Linked DNA regions of Homo sapiens: all the other regions are linked to region 5. Evidence: fine-mapped expression QTL. A gene starts in region 5. Each other region holds a variant in brackets. All regions are shown on one strand. Distances are between the middles of the regions. Region 1 overlaps MAD1L1 (mitotic arrest deficient 1 like 1). Region 2 overlaps MAD1L1 (mitotic arrest deficient 1 like 1). Region 3 overlaps MAD1L1 (mitotic arrest deficient 1 like 1). Region 4 has its middle 45 kb from the start of ELFN1-AS1. Region 5 holds the start of MAD1L1 (mitotic arrest deficient 1 like 1). Region 6 overlaps MAD1L1 (mitotic arrest deficient 1 like 1). Region 7 overlaps MAD1L1 (mitotic arrest deficient 1 like 1).

Evidence for each region.
Region 1: its variant is fine-mapped to the expression of MAD1L1 in whole blood (TOPMed, PIP above 0.99).
Region 2: its variant is fine-mapped to the expression of MAD1L1 in whole blood (INTERVAL, PIP above 0.99).
Region 3: its variant is fine-mapped to the expression of MAD1L1 in whole blood (INTERVAL, PIP above 0.99).
Region 4: its variant is fine-mapped to the expression of MAD1L1 in whole blood (TOPMed, PIP above 0.99).
Region 6: its variant is fine-mapped to the expression of MAD1L1 in whole blood (TOPMed, PIP above 0.99).
Region 7: its variant is fine-mapped to the expression of MAD1L1 in whole blood (TOPMed, PIP above 0.99).

The regions. Positions count from the first base shown.
Region 1 is chr7:2,006,312-2,010,311 of GRCh38, reverse strand. The region is part of intron 13 of MAD1L1 (mitotic arrest deficient 1 like 1); the gene reads left to right. Among named protein-coding and RNA genes, the nearest start is that of SNORA114, 81 kb to the left of the region's middle. The variant C/T (reference allele first, on the strand shown) is at 2,139.
Region 2 is chr7:2,163,143-2,167,142 of GRCh38, reverse strand. The region is part of intron 10 of MAD1L1 (mitotic arrest deficient 1 like 1); the gene reads left to right. Among named protein-coding and RNA genes, the nearest start is that of MAD1L1, 68 kb to the left of the region's middle. RefSeq lists a silencer at 816-1,026 and an enhancer at 851-1,180. The variant T/C (reference allele first, on the strand shown) is at 2,305.
Region 3 is chr7:1,848,022-1,852,021 of GRCh38, reverse strand. All of the region lies in intron 18 of MAD1L1 (mitotic arrest deficient 1 like 1), which reads left to right. Among named protein-coding and RNA genes, the nearest start is that of MIR4655, 5.8 kb to the right of the region's middle. RefSeq lists an enhancer at 3,500-4,000. The variant A/G (reference allele first, on the strand shown) is at 2,192.
Region 4 is chr7:1,785,024-1,789,023 of GRCh38, reverse strand. No RefSeq gene overlaps it. Among named protein-coding and RNA genes, the nearest start is that of ELFN1-AS1, 45 kb to the right of the region's middle. The variant A/G (reference allele first, on the strand shown) is at 1,970.
Region 5 is chr7:2,231,164-2,235,163 of GRCh38, reverse strand. It overlaps MAD1L1 (mitotic arrest deficient 1 like 1), which reads left to right and starts at 2,219. Exons shown (of 19, transcript NM_001013836.2): 1 at 2,219-2,292. MRM2 (mitochondrial rRNA methyltransferase 2) reads left to right here. Exons shown (of 3, transcript NM_013393.3): 3 at 1-969. The coding sequence ends at 42. RefSeq lists enhancers at 834-1,366, 2,101-2,230, 2,016-2,310 and silencers at 1,945-2,323, 2,301-2,720.
Region 6 is chr7:1,839,139-1,843,138 of GRCh38, reverse strand. The region is part of intron 18 of MAD1L1 (mitotic arrest deficient 1 like 1); the gene reads left to right. The region is part of intron 1 of LOC100127955 (a long non-coding RNA gene); the gene reads right to left. Among named protein-coding and RNA genes, the nearest start is that of MIR4655, 3.1 kb to the left of the region's middle. RefSeq lists an enhancer at 3,593-4,000. The variant C/T (reference allele first, on the strand shown) is at 1,715.
Region 7 is chr7:2,134,564-2,138,563 of GRCh38, reverse strand. The region is part of intron 11 of MAD1L1 (mitotic arrest deficient 1 like 1); the gene reads left to right. Among named protein-coding and RNA genes, the nearest start is that of SNORA114, 48 kb to the right of the region's middle. RefSeq lists an enhancer at 1-43. The variant G/T (reference allele first, on the strand shown) is at 2,344.

The DNA.
Region 1 (4,000 bases), 220 kb after region 5:
TCTTCCCTTCCTCCCCGTGACCTCCCAGAGGCTCGGGCAGCTCTGCGGGTGCTGTCACTTGGCTGCCGTGGGTGGTTTGGCTCCAGGAGGGCTGGGGAGAGCCTGATCTTCAGGGCCTCGGGTTGTTCACCAGGCCCAATACTTGTGAGTGTGTTGGTGATGTTTCCCTCATTGAAAGAACTTGAGATGACTGTACTGTACGAAGCAGAGATAAAGCCAAAAAAAAAAAAAAAAAAAAAAACCTGTTAAAAATCATGCAGTGAAGAAAAGTGGGCCAAGGGGTTTATGGAAACCACCCTGGAGTCTGGGCTGTGGGAGCCTCTGCTGTGTGGCCACAGGTCCTCAGTGGGAATCGCGAGGTGCTGGCTCCATTCCCAGAACGGGGCGTCTGTGCAGTACAGAACTGCGCTGAGCCGGGCTCCCCGTGACACGCCGGTGCCACCCCCGGCAGCACACACTTAGAGCACCGCTGCCCAGCACAGGAGCTGACGTTGCTGGGCGTGAGGAATAAGCCCAGGGCAGGCTCTGTCCTCTCCACCATGGGAGGACCTGCTGCCACCCTCAGAGCATCCCCCAGGGCCTGGGCGTCCACCCCCTAGCCTTCCTTGCATCAGGGGCTGCAGTGGAGCCCCTGACCGTGCACTGACTGCCTGTTGTGTGCTCTGTGGCCAGCGCTGGGCTCACAGTCATCCTCAGACCTCCACCCACAGGGAGAGCTTCTGTGTACAGCCTCACCCAGGGGCAGGTGCTGGGGCTGTGGCCTGGTTAGCCCTGTGGGGACCCTGTGGTGTGCCGCCTCCTGCTTCTTCACGTTGTGTCACAAGCCACTTGGAGACCTGGCCAGGAAGGTGGAGGCCTGAGCTTCCGTCCCATCCTTTTCCACGTGACCGTGACCATGACCACCGGTGGGGCTGCCTTCCCCTAGCTCCAGCCTTTGTACCGTGTGTGGGGTCTGTGCCTGGTGCCCTCTGGTCCTCCTCAGTCCGGCTGTCCTGTGGCTGCTGGGGTCTGTGGCTGCCTGTCCTAGCCATTTTCTGCCATGTCCTGGCTGGCAGGAGTGTTGGATCACAGGCAGCAACTTCTCACCTCAGGATAAAAATAGCCCGGCTGAGGCCTCTGTGCAGCACCTCGGTGGTGCCAAGGGCGCCAGGGCCCGGGGCTCGTGTCTCAGCACACGTAGCCACCCGGGACACGTGGTCCCACCCGGAAAGAGCTGTGTGTGACCCTTCAGCTGCTTGGGTGGAGGCAGCTCCCTGGTCACTCGGTGCCAGGGTTGCGGGGCCGGGGCGTGGCTGCGCTGGGGGCCTGCTCGTACTGGTTTTCCCGCCATGTGATGAAACCCTCTCCCCACAGCCTCCGCACCCCTCAGTGCTCCCTGGTGTGTGCCCCTGAAGCCTGGCTCCGAGTGGGCTTGGCCTCTCCTGGGGAACCCGAGCACTGCGTCAGGTCGTTTGGGATGGAGCCGTGTTCCTTCCCACCTGAGCTTCCTGCGTGTCTGCGTCTGAGGCTGTTTGGGATGGAGCCGTGTTCCTTCCCCCCCTGAGCTTCCTGCGTGTCTGCGTCTGAGGCTGTTTGGGATGGAGCCGTGTTCCTTCCCACCTGAGCTTCCTGTGTGTCTGCACCCAGCCCGGGGTGGGCTGTGGAGGAGGGGCTGAGGCTGGGGAAGTGCCTGGCCTGCCTGCGAGCAGGCTTGGCATCTGGTGTTCCCAGCCGTCAGCCCAGCCCCCACCCCGGGCCTTGGGAAGCTCTCTCTCCATCCCACCATCTCCGCATCAGAACAGGCTGCACCCTACACTGCCTTGCGGAGCCAACCTGAGCTTGGGGAGCTCTTGTCTCAGAGGTGAGGACGCTGTGGCCAGGGCCTGGGGGCTCCACCCGGTCACCCAGAGAGTGAGAGGTGTCTGTGTCCCCCGAAGGTGACTGGGCAGCCCCACAGTCAGTGCTAAAGTGCACTGTCCAGGGTGTTTCCACAGGGGGTGCTCTGCCGCCCACCCACTGCCTCCATCACAGATGCGGTTTCCTGGAGGAACCCTACCGAGACCAGCCTGGAGTTGCGCTGTCTGAGGCCCTGCGGGAGCTGCTCTCCAGTGCACACACGGGCTGTGCCAGCTCCTCGCCCTTGTGAGTGTGGTTCTCCC[C/T]GAGCTCTGGGGATTCCATGTTTTAAAGGCAGCCTTATTGAAATATGATTTATACTCAGTAAAATCCCCCAGCTTTATCTGTATGATTTGATCCATGTTGACCGTCAGTTTCCTGCCACCCCTGGCTCGTAGAGACACCGGTCTGGGGCCTGTGACTGTTGTTTTGGGCTTTCTTGGAACTTCACGTAAACAGAGTCCTGCAGTTGCTGTGTCTGTCATCTCTGACTGAGCACAGAGCTTTTGAGACCCATCAACGTTGTATCAGCAGTTCATTTACTTTTATTACAAAATAATTCTCTATCCTGAGACTCTACCAAAATGGTCTCGTCTGTTCACCCACTGACCAATACCAGGGTGGTTTCCCATTCTTGCCAGCTGGGACAGAGCTGCTGTGAATATCTGCGTGCCAGACTTCCTGTGAATGCAGGTTTTCATTCCTTTGGGCTCTACATCCAGGAGTAGGATTGTGGGGTTTAACTTTTTTTGGCGGGGACAGTGTGGGGACAGAGTCTCGCTCAGTCGCCCGGGCTGGAATGTAGTGGCGTGATCTTGGCTCACTGCAGCCTCCGCTTGCCGGGTTCAAGTGATTCTCCTGCCTTGGTATCCTGAGTAGCTGGGACTACAGGCATGCACCACCACACCCAGCTAATTTTTGTATTTTTAGTAATTTCACCATGTTGGCCAGGCTGGTCTCAAACTCCTGACTTCAGGTGATCCACCCGCCTCGGCCTCCCAAAGTGCTGGGATTCCAGGCGTGAGCCACCGGGCCGGGCCCTAACTTCTTAAGACATTGCCAGGCTCTTCCCAGCGGCCATACCGTGGCAACACGCGGGGTCCAGTGACGCGTTACTGCACAGGCTGTCGGCACCAGAGCTGGGAGAACGCTCCGCTGTGGCACTGTCGGCTTTGGTATCTGGATCCAGCGGGGCAGCAGCACATTTAGCCCTGGCTTCAATCTGTGTGTCTCCAGTGACTGACGTGCCCAGCGTTTCCCGTGCTTCTCCACCTCGGCGCCTCTTCTCTGGTGGCGTCTGTTCAGGTCCCTTCCCTCTGTCTGGTGCTGGCCTGCCAGGCCCAGCTGCCCATCTGTGCCTCCTGGAGTTCCCATTCCTCTCTCCTCACCCAGCAGGCCTGCTGGGCTCTGTCTGTGGCACTGCCCCGGCCTGCGTCCTGGGGGACTCACCCCATCCCCTCCCGCGGCTCTGAGCTCTGAGCTGCCTGCCCTCCCTCGCAGGAATCCCACTGTTCCTTGTGTTGTATCTGGTGTCTGGGGACTGAGGTGGGGGGTGTGTCTGTGCTGGTTCCTACAGCTTGTCCAGAAGGAGAAGTTCTAGCGCATTTTGGAGCCCATGAGAGCCTGTCCCCCAAAGCTTCCTGGTGCCCCATCTGGGAGCCTCCTCTGCGCACACAGAGAGCGTCGTCTTGGGTCTCTCGGGACCCCAATGTCCTGCCTCGCCTCTCCTGTGCTGGGCCGTGCGGGTTTAGTGATGTCCTGTCTCTCCTGTGTTGGGCTGTGTGGGTTTAGTGATGTCCCGTCTCTCCTGTGTTGGGCTGTGCGGGTTTAATGATGTCCTCTCTCTTCTGTGCTGGGCCGTGCGGGTTTAGTGATGTCCCGTCTCTCCTGTGCTGGGCCGTGCGGGTTTCGGTGTTTTCTTTGTTTTTCTTACTTTAGCTGTGTTCTTGGAACAATAAGGTGAGGGAGGAGTGGACGTTTGCCAAATGCTCCTCGGTGCTGGGACTCTGCTGTGAGCTTCTCACACCCTCCCTCCACAGAACCTGGGGAGGCCCAGGACAGGCACGCATTGTGGCTGACACCCCAGGCCACAGCCACCTTCGTTCTCCCAACTCCCTCCTGCCCTGTC
Region 2 (4,000 bases), 68 kb after region 5:
AGTGAAGCATGCTGCCCTGGTCTTACTGTTTCACCGGCACTCTCCTATCTGCGATGCCACTGTCCACAGCGGGGTTGCTTTAGGGTTTCGAGCTCACCTGGGGCCTTCCTGGGTTCTAGCCCCGTGAGCTACAGGCACTTCTTTGTAAAAGGGGATTCCACCAGTTAGGCAGATTCCGGTTCAGTCTCCAGCAGCCCGGGGCCCTTCCTGGAAGAGTGCTTTGTGAGCGGAGTGCGCCGCCCAGGTGTGTAGTGGTGCTTCTCAGGCCCATGGGCTGCCCTTCCCTGGGCCTCTTCTGTTTGAGGCCCTTGTCACTGGGTTCGCCTGGCATGATGATGGAGGCCCTGCAGCTCCCTGCCAGGCGTGGTTCCGCCCAGGTCATTCTCCCGGCCCAGCTGCTGTGGACAGTGGACACACGCTGTCACAGCCTCAGGCCGGCCGGGCCACGCCTCCCGGAAGCGGGCCTGCTTGTGTGTGGTTGCATCCCAAGCTCTCCACTTGCTGCCCCTGTTCTGAGCTTCTTGCCGAAGTTGTGTTTGGGGCCATTATCTAGCTTTCTTTTTGAACGTTTAAAGCATTCAAAAGATCAGCTTTTCCAAAGAGTGAGGAAACAGGGAGAGAAAATTATGGCATTTGTTTGAAAGGTTCTGAGGGCTTTTTTTTAGCTTGAACAGTTCAAACAGCGCCTCTTGTTAATCAGGAATGTTCTGGCATCCCTGGGGTGGTCACACGGGCTTAATTGGAACCCAGGCTGCTTTGAAGCCCTTGAGATCCTTCCTGAGCTGGGAGAAAGAGTGCGAGGGCAGCAACTGTAAAGCCGGCATTTCTTCATTTTATTTACATGTGTCTGGGGACCCTTGTAACTCATGTCCCTGCAGCAGTTGAGCCAAGTTGCTGACTTGTGGACAGCTCAGAGAGATGGGGGCCAGTTTCTGGCAAAAGAGCTGTAAAACATGGCCTGGGTCCAGGGCTGCGGCGGGATCCCCTCCTGGGAGGCGAGGTCTGGATGGACCACGTCACAGTCGTGGTGGCGTGGACTTTGCTGCTGGCGGCCTGTTCTTGTCAGAAGTTTCCACATGGGAGAACGTGTGGTTTTACTGAAGTCACTTAATGAGTGACCCTAATAGCTCTAAGACGTTCATCAGTATGGACCCCAGGACTTACTTCCTCTTTCGCAGAGCATGTGGACCCACAGTAACCACACTGGAGTTCCAGGCACAGGTGTACCCTGGGGGCCGGTCATTCTGCGTACACAGACCTGCCTTTGTCAGCGGGGCTGTGGGCAGCATGGGGTGGCCATCCAGCCATGGCCATGTTGCTCCAAGCCCCACCGTGGTCCTCAGGGGCACTCTGTCTCGCCCTGAGCCTCCAGCCACCTTGCCCGTCAGTCTTTCCCTGTACCTCTTGGGGATGGGGAGTCTGCCACCTAGCAAAGCACCCACTTGTCCCACCCCTTCCATTCTGTTGAGCTGAGACGCGTGTTTTGGTCGTTTCGTGCCGTGGACACCACCTTGGTTTAGTGAAACACGGCGCAGAGTCCCCTCTCCCCTGGACCACGTTTCCCCATTTCAGCTCCCTGCTGTGCACGGCTGCTTCTTCCCGCTCTGCAGAGGGTGGTCCTGGTGGCTGGAGTGCGGCAGGCAGCAGCATCCTCCCATGGTGGCTCGCATCCCAGAGTGTGACCGTGGGTTCATGCTGACGGCTCAGGCATCCCCTGAGCCTGGACACTGAAGTGTACAGATTGAGGTGTGTTGTTGGATGAGTCATGACAAGTGGAACATGTGCACTCGTCCAGATAACACACTTCTATCAGTCCAGAGTTCCCGGGGTCCCCCCAGTCCAGCCCTTCATCCCCGGCAGCTGTAGCTTAGCCTTGTTTGTTGTAGAACTTCCTATAAATTCTTCCCTTTCTATTTTTTTTCTTTTTCTTTTTTTTTTTGAGATGGAGTCTCACTTTGTCGCCCAGGCTGGAGTGCAATGGTGCGATCTCGGCTCACTGCAACCTCCACCTCCCGGGTTGAGGCGATTCTCCTGCCTCAACCTCCAGAATAGCTGGGATGACAGGCGTGAGCCACTGCGCCCAGCCGTATTTGTATTGCCCACCTTTTGTTTCGTTGAATCTGTGCTCAGGTGTCACCTTTCCCTAGCTAGAGCCCTTTCCTGGCCCTCCCGGGTCAACATGCCCCCTTCCCTCAGCCTCAGGCTTTCCACTCTTCTCCAGATCCGGCCACTGGATCAAGCCACTGTCACCTCCTCTGGGCCTTGGGGATGTCACCTGCCCACTCTTGTCATGGTCGGCCTCCT[T/C]AGCGAGCCACTCAGCTCTAGCTGCCAAGGACTCTGTCTGTTTGTCCATGTAGTGTCCTTGCTGGGCACACAGCAGGTGCTCAGTTAAATTTGTTCACTGGATGCAGATTCTGCAGGCATCTTCACAGATTATGCTGATGGAGCAGGTGTGCCCTACCACCATATGTTTCTACAATTGATTTTTTTTTGGTGCAACTGTCAAAAAATTTATTTTTCCTCTACCACCCGCAACCCCCCCCCCCCCCATTTTTCCTGCTTCTTAGTGTGGTTTTAGACTCTGATTCTGTCACTTAACATATCTGCTGTCTCCATTTGATGTGACCTACAACCTGATAGGCATGCCGTCTGCCCCTGCTCGGGCGATGGGCGTGGGCACCAGCAACCGTCACAGGGGTCCAGGGTTTTCCACTGACTGCCGGGTGCCCTCAGCGCAGAGCTCCTGCAGGAGGGTCGAATTGTCTGTTTCATAGACCAGAAAACTGAGGCTCAGCTGGGCCCTTCACCTGGCTGCCTCCAGAGTGCGGGCTTTCTGCTGTGCCAGGCTGTTCTCTTGCCTCTCCCATTCCTTTGCATCAGTCGGCACTCTGGAACAGTGCCTGAGGATGTTAGAATCACCTTATGTCTCCTCTGGAAAGAGGCCAGTGGATAGAGAAATATTTATTTCTGATCTTGTAGTCTCTGTTTATACAGCGGTTCGTTATACAAGTAACCTATTGAGAAGAGGACATAGGTGTCTGCATGCATCCGCTTCTCAGTGAGTCCATGCTGGACTGTAACTGTTCCCATTTTCCTGAGGTGGGGGGTTGAGGTTTGGAGAGCTCAGAGTCACAGATTCGCAATGAATGGACTTAGAATTGAGTGCTTGACTGACTGCAGACACTAAGGTGTTAACTCTGCTGCCTCTTTATGCTTGGGATGGTTTGCAGAACCTGCTTTTTGAAAACAAGACTATTTACATGCACGTTTCTGTTCCCAGTAATTCTTGGCATGGATGAGGGAGATGCTTTGTGTCAGATTCGCATGGTGAGGAGGGGGCAGCTCTGAGAGGAGCCAGGCCCAGGCTGCCTCCAGGGCGTCCAGTGCTCCCCAGGCTTGCCTAGGAGAGTGTCGATTCCTGCTGCACAGCAACTCTCATGACCAAGTTTAAAATGCATTATACGTAGAAAAGTGTGCTTCTGTGGCTCACGCCTGTAATCTCAGCACTTTGGGAGGCCAAGGCGGGCGGATCATGAGGTCAGGAGTTGGAGACCAGCCTGGCCAACATAGTGAAACCCTGTCTCTACTAAAGATACAAAAAATTAGCCAGGTGTGGTGTCATGCGCCTGTAATCCCAGCTACTCTGGAGGCTGAGGCAGAAGAATCGCTTGAACCGGGGGGGCAGAGGTTGCAGTGAGCCGAGATTGTGCCACTGCACTCCAGCCTGGGCGACAGAGTGAGACTCTGTCTCAAAAAACAAAAAACAAAGAATACATACTGTCGCCTGTGTGCCCATTCTCAAGAAAAAGGAAAGTTTCTTTGAAAACATGTGGACCTTCCCTAGTTCCATCCCATTACGCCCCCAACCCACACTCCCAGAGCAAGCCCCTGGGCTCTGTGATCACTCCTGAGTTTTGTAAACACTGTGGTGCTCACTCAGTCCTGCTCCCTGGAGGCCTTGGCCGCCCATCCTTAATGTGCCGGTTTGTGCCTGTTGCAC
Region 3 (4,000 bases), 380 kb after region 5:
CCAGTGAAGGTTCCCAGCCCCTCTCGTTGCCGCTGACACTGTCCGCCCACCCGTGCCGGGCCCTGCCTCCCCGAGCTCTTCCCACCATTGGTCCCACCCATTGTTTCTGCCACTCCAGCTCCCGGGCAGCAGCCAGGCGAACCAGCTGTTGGCAGGCAGGCGACTCTAGCTCCCTGGGCAGCACCTAGGAGGCCTGGCCTTTGGCAGGCAGGCGTCACAGATCAGTTAGGCCCTTCTGCGCCTGCCTGGGATGCTGAACAGGTTTCGCGACACTGTAAGTGCCTGTTCCTGAGAAAGCAGAGGTCGCCGGCACTGAAGGCTGTGTCCCCAGCACCTTCCCCTGTGTGGACCTCCTGCCGTCTTCCTCGCCACGCCTTCACTAACTGTTCCATTCTAGTTTTCTTCTTCTTGGGACCGTTTTGGTTGGTGATTGGTGACTTTCCAGGAATCGTGCATTCCTCGAGTTTTCAGACTAGCCGTGCTGTCCCGGGGCCCCGAGCAGATTCCTCTGGCCCTGGTCACTGGGGTGACGCACAGTTCATCAGGGGCTTCCTGGGCACTGCTGGGGACGCCTCTCATCCACGAGGATGGCACGTTCGAGGTCTGAGCTGTCCCAGCACGGCCTCCCTGTCGGGGTTTCCCGTGACCTCGAGTCCCATCTCCAGGACGAACGTGCAGACACCCTCCCCCACCTTCTCCATGGGCTCAGCCATCAGCCCCCAACCCTGTGCCGGCCGAGGCCAAGCTCTTGCTGCCGGCTCTGGTCTGGGCGTGGGTCACCCCCACCTTCCACCCTGTGCCGGCCGAGGCCGGGCTCCTGCCGCCCGCTCTGGTCTGGGCATGGGTCACCCCACAGGGTTGCCGCCATCAGTCAGCAGTTGGGCTGGGAGGGCCACATGAGTGCCTATAGATTCTGGCACAGACGCTTGTGGCCTGTGGGCTTACTTCCTGCCCTCCCTGCCACCTTGTTGGCTCCAGCCGGGCTGCCACGGTGGACGCAGGGTCACAGAAGCTTAGGGCAACACATTTGTGGTCCTCGACCCACGGACGCGACGCCAGGCCCTTCTCGTGTCTCTTCCTGCTCTCTGATGCCCGGAAGCTGCTTCCTATGGGGGTCCCACACGGGGTCAGGCAGGTTTCGGTGTGCCCTCCCCACTCCCCATCCCAGGAGGGGAGGAGCTCCTAGTTCTGAGGCTGCTCTGTGCACGGTCTGGCCTGCAGTGAACATGTGTTTGCTGTTGTCGCAATCACTGCTGTCACCAGTGGCTGGGCAGGGCCAGTATGCAGGGGTGGATAGTGCGGTGCCTGATCACAGGGCTAGCCCTGTGCCCTGGGGTGCCTGTTCCCCTCTGCGAACTTGGGCAACCATGGCTTTGGGGGTCCCCGGACCTGGGTCCAGCCCCGTGCCTTCTCCGGCCCAGGCCGGCTCTGCCGAGTCACCTGTGCAGCTCCCCGGAGTCAAGCACAGGCTCGGGGCAGTGAGATCATCTGCCCAGGCCCTGACCCACCGTCTGGAGCCCTGCAGGAACTTGGGGTACCCCCACCTGGACCCACTAGAGGAAGCCTGGGCCCCACAGCCAGTGTAAAGCAGCAGCTTCTGTTCATGGTACCAGGGGGCTGAGCTGGGCCCAGGCAGCTGGGTGGCTCCAGAGGTGGCAGGGGGTGAGTTCCTAGGAGGCAGGGTGGGCGCCTCGTAAGATAGAACTCTTGTGGGAAAGGATGTCTAGCGATGGGAGCTGCCTGGAGGCGTGGGTCCAGAGGGGCCCTCGGGACCTGACTGGGCGCCTGTCGGTTCCGTCCTGTTGCCCCAGAAGGGGAGGCCTGCCCAGGGGTTCAGGACCGAACACCAGGTCCAGGGGAAGCCGCTGCCCCGGCCGCCGCTCACCCACAACCACTCAGATTAAGGCGAACGAGAGTGGTGAGAACAAACGCCTCACAGAGCTGTTCCGGAAATTAGATTTTTCCCCTTAAGGTCACTCACTCCACTGGAAAATTAACCAATATTTTCCTAATCAAAGCGGGGCTGTTTCTTCCTTGGAGGAAGGTGGCCGCCCTTCCAGCGCTTGTCATTCATCTTGGAGGCAACTGCTGCCGCGTGGGCTCTTGTTTTATTAAATAAACTCCGGTTTTTATGGCCGCCTCTCAGTGCCGCCCGCCCCCCGTCCAGGGAGAGTGGCCTCAGGTGTCGGGC[A/G]CCGCGCCGTCCTGCTTCCGCTGCCGCTGCCACTGCGGGGTCACCTTCCCTCCACAGCCCCTCAGGGCCCTCCCAGAGCCGGCGTCTGCTGATCCAGCCTCCCCTGTACCCCAGGGGGCTCTTTACACCTGGGGTTCCACCTTTAGCCCAGGTGGGAGCAGGGAGCCGTCTTGAAGTCTCACCTAGGACGCCAGGACGCTGCCGCTTCCCGTTCTTGGGCCACGCCGAGCACGACTTCTTGGGGCCTGTCCAGCAGTGCAGGCTGAGGAGGGCGTGGACCCAGTCGGCCACCTCAGTGAGGTCCTGGCTGCCCCCTGCAGACAGCCCTGAGCACCCCCGCCTGCCTGCCACTGTCTCGACGGGGAGGGCCGACCATCAGGGGTCCAGGCAGCACTTCATAAAGCAAAGCTTCACCCGGCTAAGACGTGTGGGCTGCTTGGGGGCTCTGTGTCTGCAAAACAGTACCTGTGAAAATAAGGAACCGTAGGAGACGTGGGCTGGAAGGACGGCTGGTAAACATGGCCCCTCCTCACTTGGAGATTTGTGCTGCCAATAACGAGGACATGGATGAGGGGCCTCCCACAGAGCAGCGCTTCCCAAGTGCCGCTGAGTGAAGAAGCCCTCGACAGCCTCGCACAGCATCAGCTCCCTGACCCCGCATGTGCGTACGTGTGTGTGTGTGCATGTGTGTACGTGTGTGTGCATGTCTGTGTGTGCACGTGTATGTGTGTGTGCATGTGTCCGTGCATGTGCATTTGTGTGTGTGTGTGTGTGTGTGTGTGTACATGTACACCCGTGCTCACAAACAGGCTGGAGAACTACATGCCGTCGCCTCTGTGCCCCCGCTGGTGTGATTCTGAGTGACTGGGTGATGGGTGATGAGTGTTATTTTTATATTTCAAAATAGTGTGAGAAGGAGGCTGTCCTATTGAGGCACAGACCAGTGGGCAAGGACCTTGGTGGTGGGGGGCACACAATCCTCTGGGGGACCTGGGCTGCCCCTGTGGGGATGTGGCATCCCTTGGGATGCTGTGGGCAGCACAGTCACCTCCAGGGCCCCTGGCTTATCCTCAGCAACTCAGAATTAAGTGACATCTTCGTCCTTCTCTGGACCAGTTGTTTTCCAGAGCAGGTCAGACAGAGCTCAGCTTCCCCATCTGCCAGGATTCAGCGCTGGGCTCTCGGAACCAGGAGCGCAAATCGCTGGTGCTCGGGGTCCATGGTGCCCCTTGAGGGCTCACACAGCCTTCCCATGACCCTTGTCTTCTACTCCTGGTAGGGTCTTGAATCCCAGGAGATCTTGCTCTCCCATAAGAAAAGCAGCTGTGAAAGCACAGCCGGGCCCGGTGACTGGCCCAAGCCTCCGAGGAGGCGGCAAGCTTGGATGGAGTGTCCTATTCAGCATGAGGGCCCGGCATTTCCACCAGTATTCAAATGGAGCCGGAAACTTCCTGTTTCCATTGGCCTGAGACCCCGGGCTGTCCGTCTGCCCTGGCATGCACACAGCCCACCCACACTTCTGTCTACCCGAGTGGCCGATGGTCAGCCGCACACACCAGGAAGCCTTTGCTGGGGCCGGTGGTGGTGATGCTTCCAGCACGGGCTGCTTGCTTGTTGGCATCTGTGAGTCCTGACCCTTCCTGGGGCTGCAGCAGGCGTGAGTGTTGTTGAGGGAGGGAGAGTGGCCTGCGGACCCAGCCCTGAGAGCGACACTAGGTCTGTGTGCCCCCAGGAGCTCCTCCATCATCGTCTCTGCACACCCCAGCCCCGTCCCACCACATCCCACGCTGGGACTCCCAGCCGCTTCTC
Region 4 (4,000 bases), 450 kb after region 5:
ACCCTCAGCTCCATTTCCTCAGCTCTGTGAGTCCAGCAGCTCAGCCGGGGTCCCCCTCCCTGTGTCATGGTCTGTGAACTCTCCAGGCAGGATTCTGGAGAATCATAAGGCTCGCTCAAGGAGGGAAAAATCGGAGAAAATCTAAATGTTGTAAAAGAGATATACTTAAGAGATAAATATATGTTCAAATTATTTTTTATTCAAGCAGAGAATATAACTTTTGAGTGTCTATGTGACAGAAAGACTGACAATACATTGAGATGCAAAAAAAAAAAATTGAGTGGAGCATTTTCTCAAACAGCAATGCATTATAACTTGAAATTAAGAAGCATTTTATGATTCAGTTGCACGTGTAAAGCATTCTGCTAAATGAGTCTTGGGTCAAAGAGGAAATAAAAACTGCACTTAAACTCTGTAACGATGGAGAAAATAATCGCTGTTTAAACTTAGATCCAGCTAAGACTATGAAAAAAAAATACATAGGATTAAATGTTTTCATTATTTAACAAGCAGAAATGAAGCTAGTGGGTTAAAGACATCAAGACACATGTCAAGAAAGCAGGAGGAAGCAATACATAAAAACAGAATTTATGTGAATAATAGTTTATTAGTGACACGTAGAAACTCTAAGTTGATTCTTTGTAACTAATATTAACAGTCTGATGGCAAGTACGCTATGTGTTTTTATTTTATTTTATTTTTTGAGACAGAGTCACCCAGGCTGGAGTGCAGTGATACAAACTCCACTTGCTGCAAACTCCGCCTCCTGGGTTCAAGCAATTCTCCTGCCTCAGCCTCCCAAGTGGCTGGGATTACAGGCATGAGCCATCTCATCCAGTGAATTTTTCTATTTTCAGTAGAGACGGGGTTTCACTATTTTGGCAAGGCTGGTCTCGAACTCGTGACCTCAAATGATCCGCCCACCTTGGCCTCCCAACGTGCTGGGATTATAGATGCGAGCCACCGCGCCCGGCCACTGTGTGTTTTAAGAAGCTGTCCAGGTGATGCTCACACATGCTAAAATCTGAGTCACTGTGAAGGTGGCTTTCGAGGCAGATACACCAGATTAATTGAACACCCCCAATGTGGCGCTCCTCCGTGCCTGATGAGAGCGCCTGTGCCCGCCAGGTGCTGTAGAGGAAAAAGGGGCAGATGCCCCCAACGTGTGGCCCATGCACCGGCAGTACCAGCATCACCCGAGAGCTCCTGAGACATGCAGATTCTCAGGCCTGCCCCAGCCTGTCTTGGTCCAAAACTCTGGAGGGGGTGCTGGGAACCTCTGCTAACAAGCTCTGCTAACAAGGACTCGGATATAAGCTAAGGTTGAGAGCTCTGGACTAGAGACCCTGCAATTACTCCCTGCAAAACACCTAAATTACATTGCCAGAATGAACCTGCAAGCAACCAAAAGAAATTCTGGGAGTCCATGGACAAAATGACAGCCAGAGTCCAAGAGGCAGGAGAGGGGCTGAAGCCAGCAGATACTCGGGGAGCGAAGGTGGCTCTGACACGGCGACTCTGTCCTAAGAGGGACGGGGCACCAAGCCTGGGGACCACACTGGGAAGGGGTCAGAGAGCACCCAGCCTGAAGCCAGCATTCTGGAATGGCTGCCCCCTTCAGGAAAAGGCGAACTAGGAAACATCCTGAGCCTTAGTCGGCAGGGAAACTGTCTTAACCTTAGTACCAGGCAAGTTTATTTCTTAAATCCCGAGAGAATGTGCAGCACTGACCAGCCCTGCCACGGGCTTGGCTCCTAAATCTTCTGCTCTTTGCATGACCCCAAAATGACAAGGTGAGAATTGTAATTAATTTTATTTATTTATTTTTTGGAGATGGAGTCTCGCTTTATCACCCCGGCTGGAGTGCAGTGGTGCAATCTTGGCTCACTGCAACCTCTGCCTCCCAGGTTCAAGCAATTCTCCTGCCTCAGCCTCCTGAGTAGCTGGGATTACAGGTGCCCGCCGCCAT[A/G]CCCAGCTAATTTTTATATTTTTAGTAGAGATGGGGTTTCACCATGTTGGCCGGGCTGGTCTTGAACTCCTGACCTCAGGTGATCTGCCTGCCTCGGCCTCCCAAAATGTTGGGATTACAGGCGTGAGCCACCGTGCCCAACTGAGAATTGTAATTTAATGTGGATTTGTAGTGCCTCAGGAACCTGCCCAAAACAAACACATTTTCCTCTGGAGGAATATGCCTCAACCCAGGCCTTAGAGAATGTCCAAGGTCAAGTTCAAATATATATTTACATATAATATGTACAATAATATGATTTTAATAAAAAAACTACCAGAAAGCAAGACACCATGTAAAAGATCAGCCCAAATAACAAATAGAACTTGGCCCAGAAAGACCTGGGATATTGGTCTTAATGAAAACAGCATATAAAACACAACGTTTAATATTTTTAAAGACCTGAAATAGGGAAATGAAAACATAGTAAGAGAATTTAAAAACTAGGAAAGAAACAAAGTAAAACAAATATAGTCATGAATAAATCTTAAATCACTGGGAAGATTAGACAGCAGATAAATACAGCTAAACAGAGAATTAGAAAATTGGGGCCGGGTACAGTGGCTCACACCTGTAATCCCAGCACTTTGGGAAGTCGAGGCAGGTGGATCACCTGAGATCAGGAGGTAGAGATCAGCCTGGCCAACATGGCAAAACGTTGTCACTACTAAAAATATAAAAATTAGCCAGACATGGTGGCACATATCTGTAATCCCAGCTACTTCGAAGGTTGAGGCAGGAGAATCACTTGAACCCGGGAGATGGAGGTTGAGATTGAGCTGAGATTGAGCCACTGCACTCCAGCCTGGGCAACAGAGTGAGACTCTGTCTCGAAAAAAAAAAAAAAAAAAAAAAGAAAAAGAAAAAGAAAAAGAAAAAATTGGCAGACTAGAAGGTAGACCTGCGGAAAATCCACAGACTGCAGCACAAGGGCTGAACACAGACTGACACAGCTGAAGGGAGAATTAGTAGACTGGAAGTTGATATTACAGGGAATGTAGCACCAAGAAAATCAGAGGTGAAAAGACAGGCTCTGAGACACAGAAGGTCAGGGGAGAAGGTCCGGCACAGGGCTAATTGGTGCTGCAGAAAGAAATTCTGCACAGAATAGGAGAGAAGCACTGTCAGGAGGGATAATGGCAAAGGATTTCCTAGAATGAATGAAAGACATAGTCTTTCAGATAAGGAAACCCAGATGAATCCAAGCAGGAAGAGTAGAAATCCATTCAGAGGTGCCTCATAGTGGAACTGCAGAACATGACACACAGGGCTTAAAAGCTGCACCAGAGAACATACAGGTCACCCATACACTACAACAAACAGACCACCTACGACTTCCTATCACACATAAAAGAAGCAAAAAAGGAACAGGAACAACTATCTTCCAAGTTTAGACAGAAAAAAACTGTTAAAGAAAAGCTCTAAAATTGTATGCCCACGGCCAGGCGTGGTGGCTCATGCCTATAATCCCAGCCGAGGCAGGTGGATCACCTGAGGTCAGGAGTTCGAGACCAGCCTGGCCAACATGGTGAAACCCCATCTCTACTAAAAATACAAAATATTAGTTGGGTGTAGTGGCAGGTGCCTGTAGTCCCAGCTACTCAGGAGGCTGAGGCAGGAGAATTGCTTGAACCTGAGAGGTGGAGGTTGCAGTGAGCCGCGACTGCACCACTGCCCTCTAGCCTGGGTGACAGAGCAAGACTCTGTCTCAAAAAAATAAAAATAAAATAATAAATAATAAAAATAAAAAACAAAAAAGACACTCCTAAAATGTTAGTACAGGGATTGGTTGAAAAAAGAACGAAAAAATACAGTACAGGGATTGGTTGAATGAAAAAATACAGTACAGAGATTGGTTGAATGAAAAAATATGGTACAGGGATTGGTTGAAAAAAGAATGAAAAATATTCTTTTTTTTTTGGAGACTGAAATACAGTACAGGATTGGTTGAAAAACACAGTACAGGGATTGGTTGAAAAATACAGTACAGGG
Region 5 (4,000 bases):
GCCACACAGTACCACGGAAGGAAGGGCACTGTGAAGCAGTGAGGATTTCTTGTGCCATTTTCATAATGGTCATTAGCTCCTTTTAAGCTAGAAACGTAGCCTGAGCTCCTGAAGAGTTCCTGGGAGATTTGAGCTGATTTTGGAGATGGAGCAGGACAAGTGGGGAGTCTCTCTCTCTCTTTCTCTCTCTCTCTTTTTAACCAAAAAGAGATGACAAAACTAAGTTCAGGGGCCATGGAAAATGAAAAAGTCCGCTATATTGTGATTTGGGAAGAGAAAGTTATCAAGAGAAAGAGGTGAGGATGGAAGGATGGAGAAAAACAGACTGTGGGAAGGATCAGAAGGAATCCGCCGAGGCAGGGATGGGTGTGCCCATGTGTGCCTTGACGGGACTTCATCTTATAGACTGTTAAACTGTCACACACAAACAGGCTTTCCACCCCTGCTCTGAGAGCACCACGCACAGATTTCCAGTTCTTAGTGTGGCTGTTTAAAGTAGAAAATCTGGGGGCTGGGTGAGGCCACTCATGCCTGTAAACCCAGGGCTTTAGAAGGCTGAGGCTGGGGGATTGCTTGAAGTCAGGAGTTCAAGACCAACCTGGGCAACATAGCAACACCCCCCATGTCTACAAAAATGAAAAACCAAAAAGCAAACCAAAAGAAAAATCTGAAATTTCCATCTGGGGATTAACTTCTGTCTTTCTGGTGAACAATATAGCAATTCACGCATTCTTCAAGCAGCAAAAGTTCCCGGAACAATTAGGGAAGACGTATGGTCTGAATTTATCCAGGCAGTGGGTCTGCTTTGGTTTTTGCTGGAAATTTATATCAGTGTCTGGGCTCCCAAGAACATAAATGTAATTGCCAAAGCAAGCAGTGATGTGGTGTGTTTATTTTCTTTTACTCATCTAGGAACTTGACGCAGCTTTATATTTAATAAAATAATAGAGATTGCATTATTTTAAGGTACTTTCATGCTTTGAAGTTTTGTTTTTTTTAAACTGGCTTCCTCAAAGCCATTTCCTGGAGGTGTACTCATCCCTCAAGAAGAGTTTGTTGACTATGATTAAATTCCAAGGACCAGTGGGGGAAGTCTGGAAACCCAGGAATCTCCATCAGGAATCTGGGGCTCTGTCCAGCTCCCCGAAGGAAACTGCGGGTCAGATGTTTTGATTTTTTTTTTTCTTTGAGAAACAGAATCTCACTCTGTCACCCAGGCTGGAGTGCAGTGAAGTGATCTTGGCTCACTGTAAGCTCCACTTCCCGGGTTCACGCCATTCGGCCTCAGCCTCCCGAGTAGCTGGGACTACAGGCGCCCATCACCACGCCCGGCTATTTTTTTTTTTTTTTTTTGTATTTTCAGTAGAGACGGGGTTTCACCGTGTTAGCCAGGATGGTCTCGATCTCCTGACCTCGTGATCCGCCTGCCTCGGCCTCCCAAAGTGCTGGGATTACAGGCGTGAGCCACCGCGCCCGGCCGCCAGATGTTTTGACTTTTCATTTTATTTCTGGTTGCAGTCAGGTTGTTAAGTCCAGGGACTCTTGCCCTACTCCACCTCGTTCTCTTATTCCATTTCATTCCCGGGGCACACAACTTGGAAGTCTTTCTCTGAAAGAAGGAAAATTCATTGCAGACCCTTAGGAACAGCATCTTCTTAGAGGGAAGCCAGGGGCTGGGCAGAGACGGGAGGAGGAGAGGAAGAGAATATGGAAACGAGTAAGGCACACTCTTCTCAGGAAGGCTCCAATTTGAAGGATAGACAAAGGTTACCATAATAATGGTGGGGCCTGACCTCACCCCATTGGATGCTGTGCCCTGGCTTGCAGAGCACTGGGAAGGTAGCCTAGTAGCATAAATTGCATTTCTAGTGGGCCCAGAAAAAAGCAAAATAACGGATTGATTCAAGCTGATACTGAGTAGCAAAATTTTGGGAAGAGTCAACGGTGCAAGTTTGTCCGAGGAGGCTGCCGTGGGCGCGGCTATTCCACACATTACGGCGCGAGGCGAAAGCCTTAGTGGAAGCGCGTCCTGCGCAAAGCCGGGGGGCCCCCGACTGCGCCTTGGCTCAGCCTTCGGTTCCGAGTCCTTTCCGTGCGGAGTCTCCCAGGGGTGGCGGCTCCGGGTGCGGACGCGGAGTCCCCAGGATCAGCCGGTGCGCAGACTCGGTTCTTTACGGCCCGATTGCCACGCAGGTCTCGCGAGAGCGCAGGCGCAAGTGTCGCGATAAATGGGCGCCGGCGGAGCGGAGGGAGATCCGAGCGGCGGCGGCAAGCTGGCTGCGAGCGGCTGAGGTAAGCGGCCCGGCTCGCGCGGGCGGCGGGGTCCCGGGGTCCCGGGGGTCCCGGGAATGGCAAGGGAGGGGCCGAGGGCCCGGACCGGGTGTGCTCGCCAGGGTGGGGCACAACGACCCAGACCCCGTGCCTCAGGACCCCGCGCCCGCCCCGTCTCCCATGGGCGCGCTCTCCTCTCTGTGCTCTCCCCTCCTCTCCCCACTCCCCTGTCCCCACTCCCCCTTTGGGCTGTGCTGGGGACAGCGGGCCCCTCGCCTGGGTCTCCGCAGCCGTCCCTTGTGCCAGGGCGGGCGGCCGAGGGGCGCGTGCTCGTGGTCCCAGCCCCGGGGTCCCGCTGCCTACCGTGTGGGTCCCCGGGCTAGGGTGCCGGCGCGCCGAGGAAGGGGCCTGAGCTGGCGCCTGGTGGAGAAGTCGGGGCTGCAGGGGCTCTTGGCATCCTGGTGGCTCGCGCCGGTCCGCTCTCAGGAAGGGGGCGTGTGGGCCCGGTTTCCCCTCGGGGATGGCAAGGGCCACCCTGATCTCGTTTGGGCAATGGAGGAATTGGGCTGTGGAGCCTCCTTCCAGGCGGGCCTGCCTCTGCGGGGCTGGCAGCCTGGGGAGCTCAGGCCTCTGCTTGCACCAGGCCAAGGTTCTTGTTAAATGGAAACTCAGAAACTGTGCAGCTGCAGAAGTTCTACCTTTGGCTTTTAAACGCGCTTGGCTGTTCCCTAGTTGTGGCTGGTGGGCCGGCCTGCCATGAGCCCATAGTAAGCGCCGGTGTTGGGGGTGCAAAGTTCTTTACTGCGGTTTGTCTTCAGCCTTCCAAAGCCAGACAGACCCAAGTTCCAATCTCCGTTCTGTAACTTTTTGAAGCTTCGGTTTCATCATCTCTAGAATCTGTGTAAAAAGACCTAATTCACCACCCTGTTGAGACTGAGCTTACAAATATAGTGCTGGTCAACCTGCAGCCGTATTCCCATCATCTAGCGGTGGAAGACTTGAGGGATATTGGCCCCGTTCCCCACAACTTTGCAAGTAGATTTCACTGTCATGAGTTTACAGATGAGGAAACTGAAGTTCAAGAAGTCTCGGTGCTCGGAAATGTCAGATACCTTTCTTTCTGATACCTAGTTGAAAATAGTAGTAGTACTTATTAATGTCACTAGAAATAAACAATGAAAATGAGCACAGCTGTGATGATCATCATCTTTACTGTCACTGTTGCATGCCTCGTTTCTGATTCCCAGAGGCCAGATTTTTTTTTTAATTAATTATTATTATTTTTTGAAACGGAGTCTTGCTCTGGCACCCAGGCTGGAATGCAGTGGCGCGATCTCAGTTCACTGCAACCTCCATCTCCTGGGTTCAAGAAAATCTCCTGTCCCAGCCTCCGGAGTAGCTGGGATTACAGGTGCACGCCACCACATCTGGCTTTAGTAGAGATGGGGTTTCACCATGTTGGCCAGGCTGGTCTCGAACTCCTGACCTGTGGTGATCTGCCCATCTTGGCCTCACAAAGTGCTGGGATTACAGGCATGAGCAACAGTGCCTGGCTTATGTTTATTTATTTATTTATTCATTCATTTATTTATTTTGAGACACTGTCTCACCCCGTTACCCAGGCTGGAGTGCAGTGGTGCGGTCTCAGGTCACTGCAACCTCTGCCTCCCAGTTTCAAGCGATTCTTGTGCCACAGCCTCCTGAGTAGCTGGGATTACAGGCGCACACC
Region 6 (4,000 bases), 390 kb after region 5:
CACTGTGCCATCGGGGCCTCATGTGTGGTCTTGGTGGAGAATGACCAGGGCTGCTCTCTAGCCCCCGTCCTCCAGATGGTCCCCAGAGGGACTGACACACTCAAGGAATGTGCTACTGGGAAGCCAGGATGCCATTTCAGTACCAGCAGCCCCACTGTGGGCCTCACTTGAAGGCTGTGCTGGAGCCCGGCCTCGGACTCACCCCAGCCAGCCCCTGAGCTCCAGGCAGTGTACCCTCCCCATCCGGGAACCAGCCGCAAGGCAGCCCGTGTGCTGAGCCACAGGGAGGGCCAGCTGGGCGAGGGGCTGACATGTGGGACGCAGCTGTGCAGCACTCAGAGGCCCTGCCCACCCTCCCCTCCAGGACACAGCCTGACCGTGCCCTGGGCCTCGGCTGCCTTGCAGGGGCCCAGGTGAGGAGTGGGAGGTGGAGGCCTCTGCAGCTGCAGGCAGTAGCTACTCAGTAAATGATGGGCCCAGCGATGGACGAAGGACGAAGGCCTCCCTCGGGGACCTGAAGAAGCATAGCTGTCTGTCCCTCGCCGGGGCTCAGGTGGCTGCAGTTACTCAGCTCGCCTGGGACAGGCCTGGGGGGCCAGTGAGCACGCGGCATTGTGGCAGCTCAGGCAGGCATGCGCCGGAAGGGATTCTGGCGGCCTGTGGACTGGGAGAACCTTTCCAGCTGCCAAGAGTTGCCCTTTGGATCCTAAGTGCAGGGCCAAGCCCGGCTGTGACGGCTGAGGCCGGGCTCCTGGAGGCAAGGCCACCTCAGGCCTCCAGGGCCGGAGCCGCAGGGAGCTGCTGGGTTTCCACAGGGCCACGGGGGCTGCGGCCACACGGAGCGGGAGCACAGGTGGGAAGGGTGTCTGTGAAAAGTGAAATCTGTCGCCGCTTCCTCTGGCTTAATTACCGGCATGGTAGTTGCAGAGTTGAAATGCAGCTTTAAAAGCCTTTGTGAGTAGTTAGTGTCAAACACACAAGATCTACAAAGCCATAAACTCACAGCTTGGTGATATTACCAAGTACTAATTAAGAAAAAAAAAGAAAATTCCCTTTCATGATCAAATTTTCAGCCCTGCCAAAGACGAAAAACAAGGCAATTTGCAGCGGATGGTGACGCCGGAGGGTAAGTGGCGTCCACAGGAAGATGGCGGCCGAGCGCGGCGAGCAGGCAGGGTCTGGCTGAGGGCTGGGGTGGTGACGGCGTGATTGTGCCTGGCTACCGGGTTCTCAGCCAGGGAGCACCTCATTCCCAGCAGAGATGGAATCCCAGCTCAGGAAGGGGAGACTCATGCGAGGGCAGAAGCGAGGCACCCGCCCAGAAGGATTGGGGGTCTCCCCATTTCACAGGTGGGGACACTGAGGCTGAGCTCACAGCCAGGACGGGGACAGCAGAGTGACGGCCGAGACCATCTGCCCCGCGAGGGAAGCAGCGCCCACCTTCCTTGGTGGTCCGGGAAGGCCGGACTGGCCCCTTGGGTCCCCACCGGCCTCAGCCACTGTGGGCTCGTCCAGCTTCAGGCAGGCGCCCGGCCACTCACCTGGGAGGCTCTGAGAACGACAGCTTCTGTCTCGTGAGTGACGTGGTGCCCGCTTTCATCCTGGGGCCCACAGCTGCCAGGAGAGGCCAGGCCGAGGTCAGGAGGCTCAGCAGCCGGTTCCGTGACTTCCTCTTTGCTGAGGAGGTCAGGACAGAAGCTTCTAGATGACAGGC[C/T]GCTCAACTTGGTATAAAACAGCAAATTTCTGTGCCTGTGCTGTCGGGCTGTGAATGACTTCTCGTCTGTTTCATGAGATGCAGCTTCAGCCCAGGGAGGCATCAGATGCAGCCGGGCGAGACGCGGAGCCAAGAGCTGTCCTCGCCCCCCATGTGAGTGACTGGAGAGACGAAATTCTCAAAGTCTTGTCACTTACGGGGATATTTTTAACCCAGGACCAGGGAAGCACAGCTCTCATTGGTGGCCGTGTGCTCTGGCGCTTGGGCAGTGGGCAGCAGCCAGGTTATCGGGACGTGCTCAGGCCCAACAGGACCCCCAGAGCCGCACCTGCCCCCCACAGAGTAGAGCCGGCCCGGGAGCGGCCTTGGTCACATCTAATCCCACCAGCCGCCGGCAGTGGAGAGCTGTGCCTGGCCCAGAGATTTGGGCATCACATCCAGGCTGCAAACGCACGGGGACCACCTGGCCCCGCCAGGGTTTGCTCTATCCTGGCTTGGCCTGCGTGGCCTCTCGCCGTCTGCACGGTCCACTCACCCGAGTCAGGGCTGGGGCATGCAGGGAGTGTGCAGTGACATTGGGCAGAGGGAGGCTGCTCAGGTCCAAGTAGGCAGAGAAACCGCATGCCCAGGCCGCTAAAACCTTGAACTGCAGGAGCCCTGAACTGCTGTTGCTGTTTTATTGTTTTGTTTTGTTGTCAGATGGAGTCTCATTCTGTTGCCCAGGCTGGAGTGCAGTGGCGCGATCTTGGCTCACTGCAACCTCTGCCTCCCGGGCTCAAGCGATTCTCCTGCCTCAGCCTCCCGAGTAGCTGGGATTACAGGCGCCCGCCACCATGCCTGGCTTTTTTTGTATTTTTAGTAGAGACGGGGTTTTGCCATGTTGGCCAGGCTGGTCTGGAACTCCTGAGCTCAGGTGATCCATCTGCCTTGGCCTCCCAAAGTGCTGGGATTACAGGTGTGAGCCACCACGCCTGGCTTGTTTTACTGTTTATGACGCGGCTCTGCTGCTGCTAGGACAGATACTTGTACAGCCCGATTCAAAGACTGTGCAGAGGCGTCTCCCAGATACCCCGGGGCGCACTGCAGTCAAGGAAGGCTGCCTGGAGGAGGTGGCCTGGAGCTGGGGCTCACGGGTGAATTAGAGTTTGTCTGGCTGGGTTGGGGAGATGTTTCTGGCCTCAGGATCTCACTTGCTCACGCTCACCGGCTCCAGGGCATCCAGCGTGCAGGGAGAGCAGAGGGGTAGGCCTCGGGCTCCAGGCCAAAGTTGGGGAAAGAGAGTGTCAGACCTGGGCTTGGGGGATGACTCTGATGTCGTCCTCATGGGGGATGGTTGAGGAAAGGGTGGGGTGTGGCTCACTCGTCTGGCCCTCGCCCATGTGGAATGCCCGCCGTGCTGGGCCCCGCTGCAGGTGCTGGATGCGCAGCAGTAATGCGGGGGTCCTGCTCCGCCTGGGCACGTCTTCCAGCAGGGATTGGGGGGCCGATGGCCAGGCAGGGTCTGTGCTCCATGCCTAGGTGGTTATGGGGGGAGGCGGGGAGCCTGGGCCCTGGCCGTGGGTGGACCTGTGGCTTGCTGACCTGGTGCCCAGCTGCCCCACCTCCCAAGCTGTGAGAAGCCAGGACCAGCCCCATCCTCCATCCAGATGGTCTCTGACATTGCCCTGGGAGCCGGGGGGAGGCGGGGGGGATGTTCTAACTGAAGGGCCTGGGCAGCCTAGAGCCCTTCTGTATCTTCTGGCCAATGGTTTTATCTGGTCCACTGCCTCCCAAGCCTGCACATCCCATCTCGCGCGTTTAAACTGTTAGAAAGTTACTCCTTTGACTAAGCCGGAAATGCTCTCTATGGCCCTGTGGATCTGCGTCCAGTTCTCCACGACATTCTGTTTTTGGAGCCTTTGTGAAGAGGCTGGGGGTTTGTCAGCCCCACTCGGAAGCGAACAGGCTGGTTCCCCGCCCCAGGCCCAGCTTGTCCTGCGGGCAGCTGGCCTGAGAGCCAAGCACTCCCCAGGCCATGGCACCGGGTGGGCAGGATGCTTTCCTGCCAGGCAGGGGGCAGGACGCTTTCCTGCCAGGCAGGGGGCAGGACGCTTTCCTGCCAGGCAGGAGGCAGAGCCCTCCCTGGGACCCCGAGTGTCTGTCCTGGGTGGGGACTAGACGGTGACCACCACCTCGACCCCGGGCAAGCCCACCTAGCCCCGCCCTCCCACCAAGCCCTGCTCCACCTACACGAAGCTGCGGCCAGCCCCTTTTGCCCCCAACCTAAATGACTGAGGAGTCTGTTAG
Region 7 (4,000 bases), 97 kb after region 5:
AACAAGCCGGAAGTGTGCGTCTGGCATTCATGCCCCCAATCCCCACCTCTTGATGTGGTTCCTTCCGTTTTGTCAGTAGGATCTGTTTTCAACCTCTGCATGCTGAAGTGCTCATCTCTCTAGGCCACTTGGTCTGGCGCCCACCTCGTCGTGGTTCTCAGGATGCCTCATTTCATTAGGCTGAGTGGCTCTGGACTAAGTGCACCTGCAGAGCTGACCGCCCCACCGCCAGCCTGCTGAGCGCTGCCGCAGCCAGGACGGTGGCCAGGGAGCACGTCCCCTGGGGCAGCAGATGCATCCCCTTCCTTTCTCCTTCCCTTTGGACCCTGTATGCACCCCTGCATTCTCTCACCCTCTTTAGCAAGTTAAAAAAAAGCTGGCATTTCCTCCCACCCCCATGAAACCCTTTGTAACAGCAGTCTCAGGTCCGCAGTGTCAGGGGCTGCCCAGTGGTGGTGAGAGCGCAGCGTGGGTGCAGCCCTGGTGAAGGGCCTGGGACTCACAGCTCTGTGCTCTGATCATGGGCTGGCCCGCGCTGTCAGTACAGAAACGCCCTGTGAACTTCAGCTGCCATCATGGCCTGTGTCGTGTGGCTGGTGTCGTGTGGCCCTCGCATAGTTATCCGACATGGCACCGTCGGCACAGAAACGCTCTGTGAGCAGCAGCTGCCATCATGGCCGGTATCGTGTCCTCGTGTAGTTGCCCCATACGTCCACCTCCTGCTTGGCTTCCCCTCTTTGGAGCCTCCAGGGCCAGAGGAGCACAGTTCAGAAACTGCTGGTCAGGAGACCTTTCCTGGAGAAGTTTCTGTTCCGGTTGTGGATCTGGCCTGTGTGGGAGCCTGAGGTGGCATCTTTGAGGTGACCCGGGACCATGGGGAAAGCGCTCTGTTTCCTGGCTGAGGTTTTCAGGCAGTGCCATGGCACAAGCCTGTCTGCACCTGGGGCTAGAGGTGGCACGTGCAAGTCACAGAAGGGAAGGAGGAGACAGCCTGGGCCCCTCACTCACCTGGGCCAGAGGTGGTGTGTGCAAGGTGCAGAAGGGAAGGAGGAGGCAGTGTGGGCCCCTCACTTGCATGGGCCAAGCAGACCGGTAACATGCCTGCCGCTCTGTGACGTTTCTGTTAGAGAGCGGAAGGTGTCTGACCTCAGCTCCCCAAATCAGAAAACGGCATCTGGAGTGCCATATACGTTTGAGAAGAGGGTGCTTGGGTCAGTTCTGTCCTTTGCAAGCGAACATCTTTCTTGGCCCCCAAAAGGTGGTAGTAGAATGTAGATTTCCTCAAACATTTGGAGAAAACACAGAAATGAATACTACTTGAATGTTGTTTATTGTTGCTTCAGGAAGAGAATAGGGAGATGGGAGAAGGGCCCTTGCTGGGGTTGGTCCCTAAGTATTTTGGTGCCCTGAACTTCTGTTTCCTTGCTTATTTTGAAGGGGTTTGTGTGAGCCTAACCCCAGGAGAGCAGCCCACACCCCACAGCGGAGCCTAGAGCAGGGTCAGGGCTGCCAGGAGCTGCTATCTGGGGAGACTGAGGTGGGGTCCTCGAGGCCTCCTCTCTCATGCCCGGCACTGCCAAGCCCAGGGCATCATCAGTGGACTTGGGAGCATCCTCTTATGAACGCTTTTCTTGAGTTTCCCTGTAACTTGTTGTAAACTTTGTAAGCTCTGAGCCAAGAGCTTCCTTCTTAGCCTTGAAGCTGGCCACTGCCGGCTCCTTTCCATGCCGAGCTGGGATTCTTGGTGTGCAGGTGTGGAGAGCAGCTCCGGTGCCATCAGGCGATTGGAGTACGCTTTCCTTCCTTGTTTGGCAGAACATAAAATCAGTCTCAGGCCCTCCCACCATGGCCTCCACTGCTGAGCCCCGAGGAGATGCCAAGAGATGGGAAGGGCCCCCACCGAGGAATGCAGCTGGCTCAGAGTCTGCCTGTGGAGAACAGGAGCCCCTGGAAGGGGCAGGCTTTGGGCAGGTGAGTGCACTTGGTCTGAGGGAGGGTGTTGGTGTTGCCAGCATCCTGAGCTCGAGTTGGTGCCATAGACCTGGGAGGGTCTCTCGATCCTGTTAGGAAACTTGGGTAAGAGAGTCGGAACAAAGAAACATCCACTGCTAGGCACCTGTGGGTACCAGGCACTCCACACGTGTCCCCCTGCCCTGGCACTGATCCTGCCTGCTGGCGGGGAGCCTCTCGCTTTGCCCCAGTTTCCCCAAGGTTGTGGAGCCACTCAGCCTGGAGTCTGCTTGTGAGCTCAGGGCTGGCTGTCTCCTAAGCCTGTGCCCTCTCACCACGTTGCCTCTCATCAGGGCGATGCTTTTTCAAGCTCAGATATCACAGGTCGCTTCC[G/T]CAGGGCATGAAGCCTCTTAATGCTGACCCTTTTTTAATACTGTGGCCGAGAAACACAGTTGCGCAGAGTCTGCAGGAGGAACAGTGTGGACGTGGCTGTGACAGGCATTTTTGGTCAGCGTGGGGCAAGTGCGGCTTCCTGTTTCTGTCTCATTGAGCTTGGAGTGGACATAGGGGCTCTAGGAGAAGGAAGGCTGTGACCCCTGCCCTGAAGGAGCTTTCCCTCTGCCTGGGAAGAGAAACCAGCAGTGAATCCCTTAGGGGACTAGAGAGCGTTGGGCCGCGTGGTCCTGATCATGGCCACGCTTCCCAAATGCCTGGCTGCTTGTGAGTTATATGGCGAAAAGAGCCTGAAAATAGAGATCCTTGGACTCACCTCCAAAGGCTCAGATTCAGGTCTCTGCTGAGGCCGTTGCTCCCTTCATGAGTGTACTTTCCCTTGGGCCTGGGACATGTGCACACACGTCACCATGAGAGGTGGCAGGCAGGACTCCCATATGTGGCCGTGAGAGGTGGCGAGAGCTGGTGGGCATTGTCCCGAGGGTCGCTGTGAGAGCTGGGGGGCAGGAGGCCCGGACATTGCCCACCACCTGAGCCTTCCTCTGCACCAGCATTGCCCTCACTTGTCAGTCCAGGCCCCTTTAATGATAAACAATTACCGAAAACAAAGAGTTTTTATTTGTGGGGAATCATAACTATCAGTATTTACCATCTTTGGAAATTAAAATTAAAATTAAATCATTATTTACAATTATATTTATAATCTCATTAAAAACAATTCATTATCACTTAACAAAATATATTTATGAAAAATGCATTTTCTAACACAAAACGAGACAGTGAGAGGAATGGCATTGTTTTTTACTTTTTACAAATCTCTTCAGTGTCTGGTGAAATAGAAGATGGGAGCATCTCGTGTCTGCGTCCATCTGCCACGGTCTCTTCTTTTGGAGTCTGTGGAATAAGTCTGGCCCCGCACAGGTGTGCAGTTGGAAGAAGGAGGGCCTAGTGGCCTGAGGGCCCCACACACAGGTTCTGCTCAGCCTTGCCTGCTGGGTGGGTGAGGGCTGAAGGCAGGTGCGCTCACCGTTCCTTCACACCTTTCGTGGCTAGTCTTACCTTTCTGGGTAGTGTTTGCTCAAAATTCTGATTAGATTGTAGGGGGTGTTTTTTGTGTGTTGAACATGAACATCATTAATGAACGTCAGTCATTGAATGTCTGGGAAGGTGTCCTCAGTTCTGGTTTTTCTGGAAACGGTGACTCATGTATCCTAGAAAAGGCCCACTTTGCAGCATTCCGGGCAGTTGAAGGAAGATGGCTCAACCCATAAGCAGCAGAGCTGACTTCTTTCAGGTGTTCTTGCCCTAGATGAGCAGCAGGGGTGTCCCTGGGGCCTGGAGATCATGCCCACCTGATTTCTGGTGGAGCCAGGAACTTGGGCAGCCACAAGTTGCTCTCTGAGAACCCCACAAATCCAAGACTAGTCCTTAAGAGAGGGTGGCCTCTCCAGAGACGTGTGCAGCTGCTGGACACAATTGGGCTCTGGTGACTGGTCCTGTTTAAATGGGCAGATTTTTCTTTTTGTTGTCATAGAGAAGCTAATTTCTTATTACTTGTCAACTATTTCCGTCTTAAAACCAAGTAAGAAACTAGAAG